Homo sapiens: one gene and its partner. The protein of the gene in region 1 interacts with the protein of each later gene in a pairwise test. Each region holds a gene or a part of one and is shown on either strand. Other genes may lie near its edges.

The links.
Region 2: the proteins of CPNE2 (region 1) and KATNBL1 interact in a two-hybrid assay, tested with the Homo sapiens proteins (one large-scale study listed by BioGRID and IntAct).

The regions. Positions count from the first base shown.
Region 1 is NC_000016.10:57,144,583-57,148,869, forward strand, and holds the end of CPNE2 (copine-2), read left to right. Parts: intron 1-1,502; coding exon 1,503-1,739; intron 1,740-2,968; coding exon 2,969-3,076; 3' UTR 3,077-3,787; downstream 3,788-4,287.
Region 2 is NC_000015.10:34,203,321-34,207,344, reverse strand, and holds part of KATNBL1 (KATNB1-like protein 1), read left to right. Parts: intron 1-4,024.

The DNA of each region.
Region 1 (4,287 bases):
GATGTTACGGATGGGGGAAACTGAGCTTCCCCTAAAGGGGTCAGCGGGTACTAAGGACAGAGCTGAGCTGAAAATAAGTTCTTGGCTGGGCGCGGTGGCTCACGTCTGTAATCCCAGCACTTTGGGAAGCCAAGGCGGGTGGATCACCTGAGGTCAGGAGTTTGAGACCAGCCTGGCCAACGTGGTGAAACCCCAACTCTACTGAAAATACAAAAATTAGTCGGGCATGGTGGTGGGTGCCTGTAATCCCAGCTACTTGGGAGGTTGAGGCAGGAGAATCACTTGAACCCAGGAGGTGGAGGTTGCAGTGAGCCCAGGTTGTGCCAGTGTGGGCGACGGAGCGAGACTCAGTCTAAAAAAAAAAGAAAAAAGAGTTCTTGGCCAATTTGGAATCCTGGGCCCTCACCCTCAGATGGTCCAATGAGCCTTCCTGCACTTCACTCAGGCACACCCCGGCCCCACTTCACAGTTTGTATTTTATATATCTCCCACACTAATTATTCAATTTTTAAAATTTAATTTATAAAGAAACTCTATATCCCATTGTAAATGAAAAAAAGCAGTATCACTTGCCATAAATAGAGAGTAACAAAAATAAACACAACAAGCTGTACAATGGTATTAAAGCCTAGCTGGAGACTATTGTCTCCTCAAGCTCTGGGCTTCCTGCCTTCCCTTTCCGTTGATAAGGAAGCTTAGCAAATGTTAGAGAGACGTGAAAGACACAGTAGTACCAAACCAAGACTTGCTCCTGGGTGCAGTTCATAGAATTGAAAGGCCACTGCAAACCAGTCCTCTTCCGGGGTGACTTGATGACTTGATGGTGCTCAGTGCTGTGTTTGGGATGTGACTCAAATCCACTTATTTGTCAGCAGAGTCCCACACTCCTGGAAGCCCTGGCCCAGACGACCTGCTTTAGCTCCCGCAAGGTGTCTCAGATTGTCGTGTTGAGTAGGGAATGGAGGGGGTCACAGGTGCCCATGCCCAGGTGCAGCAGAGAGGGGGAGACCGGTCCCAGAGCAGCCCATCAGCCAGATGAGTCCCCCTGCGCCAGCCGTGGGCCTGTCGGGAATGCAGCTGACTGGGCCACTGCCACGTCAGGCACATTATCTGCAACAACTCCCACTTTGCAGATGAAGAAACTGAGGCACTACGAGTCAAGTCAGTTGCCTAGAGTCCCACAGTATAGCAACTGGCAAGGCCAGGCCCAGAGTCCAGGGCTCTCAGAGGCCCCAAGGGGGAGTCTAAGATAACACACAGGGCAGGAGGGGAGAGCAGTTTGTACTTCCTGCTGTGACCAGGTCAGAGTTTAGAGCATGAGAGGCCTGCAGGGGTGGGGTGCTGAGAGCAGGACGCATAGTGAGTTGTCTGGGACTTGGCTGCAGCTGGGTAAGATGCACTGCCTTCCTCCAGGACTCGGAGGGTTTGGGATGAAGGAGGGAGGGAGAAGGGGTGCCAGAGCCTCGACCTTGCTGAGTGCCCCGTTGGCCCCCTCCCTGCAGCAGTACTTCATCCTCCTCATCATCACGGACGGGGTCATCAGTGACATGGAGGAGACACGGCATGCCGTGGTGCAGGCTTCCAAGCTGCCCATGTCCATCATCATCGTGGGCGTGGGCAATGCGGACTTCGCTGCCATGGAGTTCCTGGATGGGGACAGCCGCATGCTGCGCTCCCACACGGGGGAGGAGGCAGCCCGCGATATTGTGCAGTTCGTTCCCTTTCGAGAGTTCCGCAACGTGAGTGTGGGCCTGGGCTGGGAGGGGGCGGTTACAGGATCCCAGCCACCATAGCTCATAATCAAGCTTGAGAGTCTTGGGGTTGTCTGGCCCAATCCTAGACTTCTCCACTCCATTGACTATGCTCTTCTGAGGGCCTGCCATGTGCCAGGCGCCGTGCCAGGCCTTGCCCCGGTGGTGGCCATTGTGATAGTGTGAGCACTTGCTTCCACAAACTGATGGAACATGGAGCCGTGGGCATCTAGCCTGAGGCTCTGGGGCAGGGCTTCCTGGAGGACCTGCCCTCTAGTGGGGTCTGATGAGAGGCTGGGGCTATCCATGTGGTGTAAAGTGCAGGAGGAGAGAGGGGTTTTCCTGATCATCACGCCCCAGCAAGCCCCCTCATTTTGTAGACGGAAAACAAGGCCTCCCAGTCATCTTAGGTTGACCTCCTCTCCCTAAAGCCCTCTGCCTGGGAGAATGGTGTCCCCAGCCTTGTTCCTGGAAGTGGCTCTGGCTTTATTTGCAGGTGATCCCAGATCTGCCCACAAGGAGGCCGGGGTTGGCCTCCTGATCACTGCCCTAGCAGCAGGGTCCATGAGGAGTCCCATAGGGGAGCAGTCTCTCCACTGTACCGCTGTACTGTAATGCCACCCCCATACTGCTGGCTGGGGGCTTAACCCAGCCTCAGCAAGAACTGCCCATGCTGGTTTGCACCCAGTGGCCCTCACCTCTCTTCCCAGCATCCTCTGGGGTTGCCTGCGATGGTTCTACTCCTTCCTCTGGAGCATTCGCTTCCTAAGGACAAACCCTGGGCATCGGTCACCCCTTCATGCACAGGTCGGTGACCGAGTACCTCCATGTGCCTGGCCTGTGGCTGGCTGTTCACTAGTGAACCATACTGTCAGGCCCATTTATTCCCGCCAAGAAGGTGCTCAGGAGATGTTTGCCGGACACATAGGTGCTTCCCGCAGACGGAGTCATCCTAACCCGTTACTCCCAAGCATCTCAAGTGCTCCAGGTAACACTTACACCTAACCTAAAGGAAGGCACTGCGATCAGGGGGAATTTCAGGCCTGGCCTGGGCTGAGATGAGGGATGCCACTTGCAGACAGCCCTGGCCCGCAGCCCTAATTTTGTCCTCAATGGACACCTGCTGTAGCAGCCCTCTGGGCATAGTGCCGCTCACAACTTCCGGTCATTAATCCTTATTCTCTCTCTTCCCCACCCCACCCTCCTCCACCCTGCAGGCAGCAAAAGAGACCTTGGCCAAAGCTGTGCTGGCGGAGCTGCCCCAACAAGTTGTGCAGTATTTCAAGCATAAAAACCTGCCCCCCACCAACTCGGAGCCCGCCTGAGCTCCAGTGCCCAGCAGCAGCATGTCAGCTGAGCCTCCTGCCCTCCCCCAGGAACATGCACGCTCACTCTGCTTCCTTGTGGGTGGCCTTTTTTTACCGATCCCCTTTTTTATTTTTTACAACCGGACCTCCACCCCCAACTTCCTCCAGCCCAGCTGGGCTTCCTTTGTTGGAGTCAACTGTTGATGCTTCCAGGCCAAACTGGCTTCCTCTCCTCCTCTCCCCACCTTTGCCATTCTTAAGTATTGAATGTACTTTGTATAATTTTAGTGGAATTGTTATTGAGAATAAAATTTTTACAATCATAACTGGCTTTTTCCAAGTAACTAGCTGCAGACTCTGATGAAAGAAACATGTCCTTGGTGCATACGTGTCGTAGCCTGCACCTAATTAATTCCTGCTGTTTTTTTAATACTGTGACTGTGTTCTATTTGTTATATGCTCAGGGTAACAAATGAGTTTCAGACGTCCCTGCGTCAGCTCCTTCCTCAGCAGGGACCTGACGGGCTCACTGATCTAAGAAAGGAAATGGAAAATGAAAATCCACCCCACAAGTCTAATAAGTTGGTGTAGTCACTTCTGCATGGGGACATGCATTCCAGATGATAACCTGTTAAATCACTGCCAGTTAACAGTGATAACCTGTTAAACTGGCACAGAACCTGGCACATTGTACAAACTCAATAAATATTCATGGATGAATAGAATGAATGTGCAGGCCCATACCAGTTTCTGACATATCCCTACCCCACAACTGGACAGCAGTCCCAGCCACCCATCTGCTCCTCCTTGGGTCTCCCGGGTGTTTGGGTTGGCCACCTAGAGGTCTGTGAAAGCCTCTCTGGCCTCAGGACCCAAAATGGGGCTGCTTCTGACCCTGCTGTTTCTTCCACATCCCCCTCTCTAGGCTCAGGCCCAGTTTTATGAAACCAGCCAGAGGACCCCTCTCTGAAAGTTCAGCCCCGCTCCCAGGTCCCTCCTTTATTCCACATAACACCTCTTTCTCCTTTATCCACCTGACTCCCGCTTGGACCTCCAGGTAAGCCCCCTGGACACGGGCTTCCGTGTAACCAGTAACAGCTAACCCTCCTATTAAGCACTTTGTTTCCAGCTCCGTGTTCAGTATTTTGCAGGCACTTTTTCTGAGACAGGGTCTCACTCTGTCCCACCCAGGCTGGAGTGCAGTGGTGTGATCTCGGCTCACTGCAGCC
Region 2 (4,024 bases), on another chromosome or scaffold:
TCCAGCTACTTGGGAGGCTGAGGCAGGAGAATCGGTTGAACCCAGGAGGCAGAGGTTGCAGTGAGCCGAGATCGCACCACTGCCTTCCAGCCTGGGCGACAGAGTGAGACTCCATCTCAAAAATAAAATAAAATAAAATTAGGCAGGTGTAGTGGCATGCGCCTGTAGTCACAGCTGCTTGGGAGGCTGAGGTGAGAGGATTCCTTGAGTCCAGAAGTTGGAGGCTGCAGTGAGCCATGATCATATCACTGCACTCCAGCCTGGGTGACAAAGCAAGACCCTGTCTCAGGGAAAAAAAAAAAAAAAAGTATTGTCTAGTAACAACAAGATGCATCATAACATTACACTAGTCAGTATTATGTTGATGTTTTATCAATCATTATATTTGTTGATCCATGTTAGTTAATTTGGTGCTTTCTGGAAAATGTATTTAGGAATATAATGTTTTTTAATTAAACACCTTAAACCTAATACAAATGGTACTTTTACTGGGAGCATACACTTTTTAAATTGGAAGGGTGTAATTTGACTTTTCTTTTCTTTTTTTTTTTTTGAGACGGAGTCTTGCTCTTGTCTCCCAGGCTGGAGTACAGTGGCAAGATCTTGACTCACCACAACCTCCACCTCCCGGGTTCAAGCTATTCTCCTGCCTCAGCCTCCTGAGTAGCTGGGATTACAAGCACCCACCACCACGCCCGGGTAATTTTTGTATTTTTAGTTGAGACGGGGTTTCGCCATGTCGGCCAGGCTGGTCTTGAACTCCTGACCCAGGTGATCCGCCCACCTCGGCCTCCCAAAGTGCTGGGATTACAGGCGTGAGCCACCATGCCCGGCGTAATTTGACTTTTCTTTGCCAGGTTCAAATGCTGTGTTTACTATTTCTTGCTCATCTAAGTATTTTTTCACTACCAGCTTAATACCCCTTAACTTTGGAGACTTCTGCGTTATATTTACCATTCTTGTTCTTGGAGCATAATGAGGGTAGAAATGAGAGAAAAGGTATTTTGAAAGGACTCCCTTTTTTGCTTCCTGTAACTACCTCTCTCTCCTTCAGTTTTATATACTGTCTGAAATTCTTTTTGCCTTGAGCAAGTCACCCAGAAACCTACCACCTATGTATGAGTCATGAGATGCTCATTCTAGCATCTCCTCTGCCCACTAGCATACTCTTAAGATGCACAGCTTGGTGTTACAGTGGGAAAGGCACTATTACTGTAAGTCGCAACGCTAAGCCTGTTAGTAACTAAGGGTTTTTGGGCAAGTGATTTAATCTCATCTGAAATTATCTCCAAGGTCGAGAATCTATAAAATAGTTACTTATTGAGGGGTGTTCTTTGGTGAGGAGGGAGACCTGTGGGGAAGAGGCCTCTGGATAGTCTTTTACATCTTAGTGTGATTAATCATAGATTATTTCTCCTAAAGGCATTTTTAAAAGCTACTTATATGATAGGATTGAGGAAGAAATCTTAGGATGGAATTTAAAGGCCAGTAGAATATAAGCTTCAGTACAGCAGGGATTTTTGTTTGGTCCACTGATGTTTCCCTAGTGCGTAGAATAGTAATTAGTCTGTAACATGTACTTAATATTTGTTGAACGAGTGAAGAAATGAAGGAATGGGTTGCTGGGGAAAGATAAAATTTGTTGGAGTACTGCGCAGATGCTCTGAGTATCTTGAAGGAATTCAAAATGCAAACCAACCAGAGTACAACCCATCATTCCTACAATGTAAAAATACCTCCCAGCAGTAGCAAAGTGTCTATTGTTCACTTAATCGCCTTTCAGAACTATTAAGCGATTACTGCCCTGGCTGCCCCTCTTACTCACAGAGTAAGATTTTGACCATCACCACATACTTAAGTGCCAGCTTGACATTTCAGTATGCATTTTACTCTTACTTTCAAAAACCTATGTCCTAGCCATTCCCTGTGCTACACTTAATATAATCAATAACAGGACATTTACTGTTGTAGCAAAAATGAATTATATATATTGATTAAAATTTGGCCTTTCATCCATGGAGGATTCATGGCATAGCATTTAAAAACTGGCACTCTTCAGGCACAGTGGCTCATGCCTGTAATCCCAGCACTTTGGGAGGCCTACGTGGGCGGTTCACAAGGTCGAGAGATCGAGACCATCCTGGTCAACACAGTGAAACCCCGTCTTTACTAAAATACAAAAAATTAGTTGGGTGTGGTGGTGCACACCTGTAGCCCCAGCTACTCAGGAGGCTGAGGCAGGGGAGTCACTTGAACCCGGGAGGCGGAGGTTGCAGTGAGCCGATATTGCACCACTGCACTCCGGCCTGGCAACAGAGCGAGACTCCATCTTAAAGGAAAAAAAAAAAAAAAAAACTGTCCCTCTTTGCCTTCCTGTTCCACAACTGCCATATAAATAATCGTCAAGAATAGTTTTTTCACATATAATTCGTATACAAAGTTTCTCAGTAAGTCTATTTTGTCTACAAGATAAAGTCCAAATTCCTGACCTAGCATTCAGGGACTTCTGCATTTTAGCCAACTACCTTTTTATTCTTTTCCCTTACAGTGGCCTGTACTCAATAATTACTTAATTATTGAATAGTTGGTATAGAAAATAAGGAAACAAAAAGCAGTTATTCTTGCCTACAAAGTATGTTTCCAGTTGAAGAAAGTCTGGCAGATGGTTTTTCAAGAAGCCTGTATGGGTGGCATTCATTGTTTGAGTGAATTATCCATTTAGTGAAAAATAGCATTAGAGACAAGAATTCCTTAAAACTCCATGTAAACAGTTTTTTTGATCCTTGTTGACAGACCTGTTGGAAACTAGGTAATACAGTCTACCCTCAGCATCCATGGGTTCTCTGTATGGAAGCCATGAATACGGAAGGCTGACTAGGGGACATGAGTATCCACGAATTTTGGTATCTGAGGTGGTCCTGGAACCAGCCGTACTCAGATACTGAGGGACAACTGTAATAAGAAAAGAATTAAATATGTATATCTAGTGACATCAGTTTACATTGCAAGTAACCACTTAGTGGGACTGACTGAATCATTCTGTGCCCACAGCATTGCTTGAACAGTTCATCAGTCTGGATGGACTAGGTGATTTTGTAGTAACAAACAGCACCCAAATCTCAGTGGCTTATTTCAGAGGTTTATTTTTCCTCAGTTCATGTTACACATGAGCTGTCTGGGCCTGTGCTCCTAGTTTTCCTTGCTTAGCAATGTGGACAGGGGAGTCTTAACTTTCTGGCCTGTTGTTGGTTACCTGTTGATGGTTAGAGGTAAGGTAATGGGAGTGAATCACACACACTGGCTCTTTTTTTTTTTTTTTTTTAATTAAGTTCTGAGGTACGTGTGCAGAATGTGCTCTTTGTTACATAGGTATACACATACCATGGTGGTTTGCTGTACCCATTAACCCGTCATCTACATTAGGTGTTTCTCCTAATGCTATCCCTCCCCTAGCCCCCCACCCCCCAACAGGGCCCGGTGTGTGATGTTCCCCTCCCTGTATCCATGTGTTCTCATTGTTCAACTCCCACTTATGAGTGAGAACATGCAGTGTTTGGTTTTCTGTCCTTGAGTTAGTTGCAGTGAGCTGAGATCGTGCTACTGCACTCCAGCCTGGAGACAGAGCAAGACTCCATCTCAAAAAAAGAAAAAATAGATACCAGAATAAGTGTATCTATTCTAGGTACAATGAACATGGTTCCTGCTCTCATGGAGCTCACAGTCTAGTGAGAGGTCATGGGCAATAAGTGCATAAGCTAATTTCCAGATGGTGATAAATGTGGTGGGGGAAAAATACAGGGTACTGCTATAGAGAATGATTGTAAGTGAGGGTGGGGTTATTCTTGATTGGGTGGTGAGTGTGTGGGAGGAATATTTTAAGCAGAAAGAATGGCTCAGCCACAAAATGGAAATAAGTTTGAAATGTTGAAGGACAGAAGGCCAGTGTGGCTGAAGCATTTAGGAAGCTATTATATAGTCTAAAGGAGTTGGTGGTTTGGTCTAGAATGGTGGTAATGGAAATGGA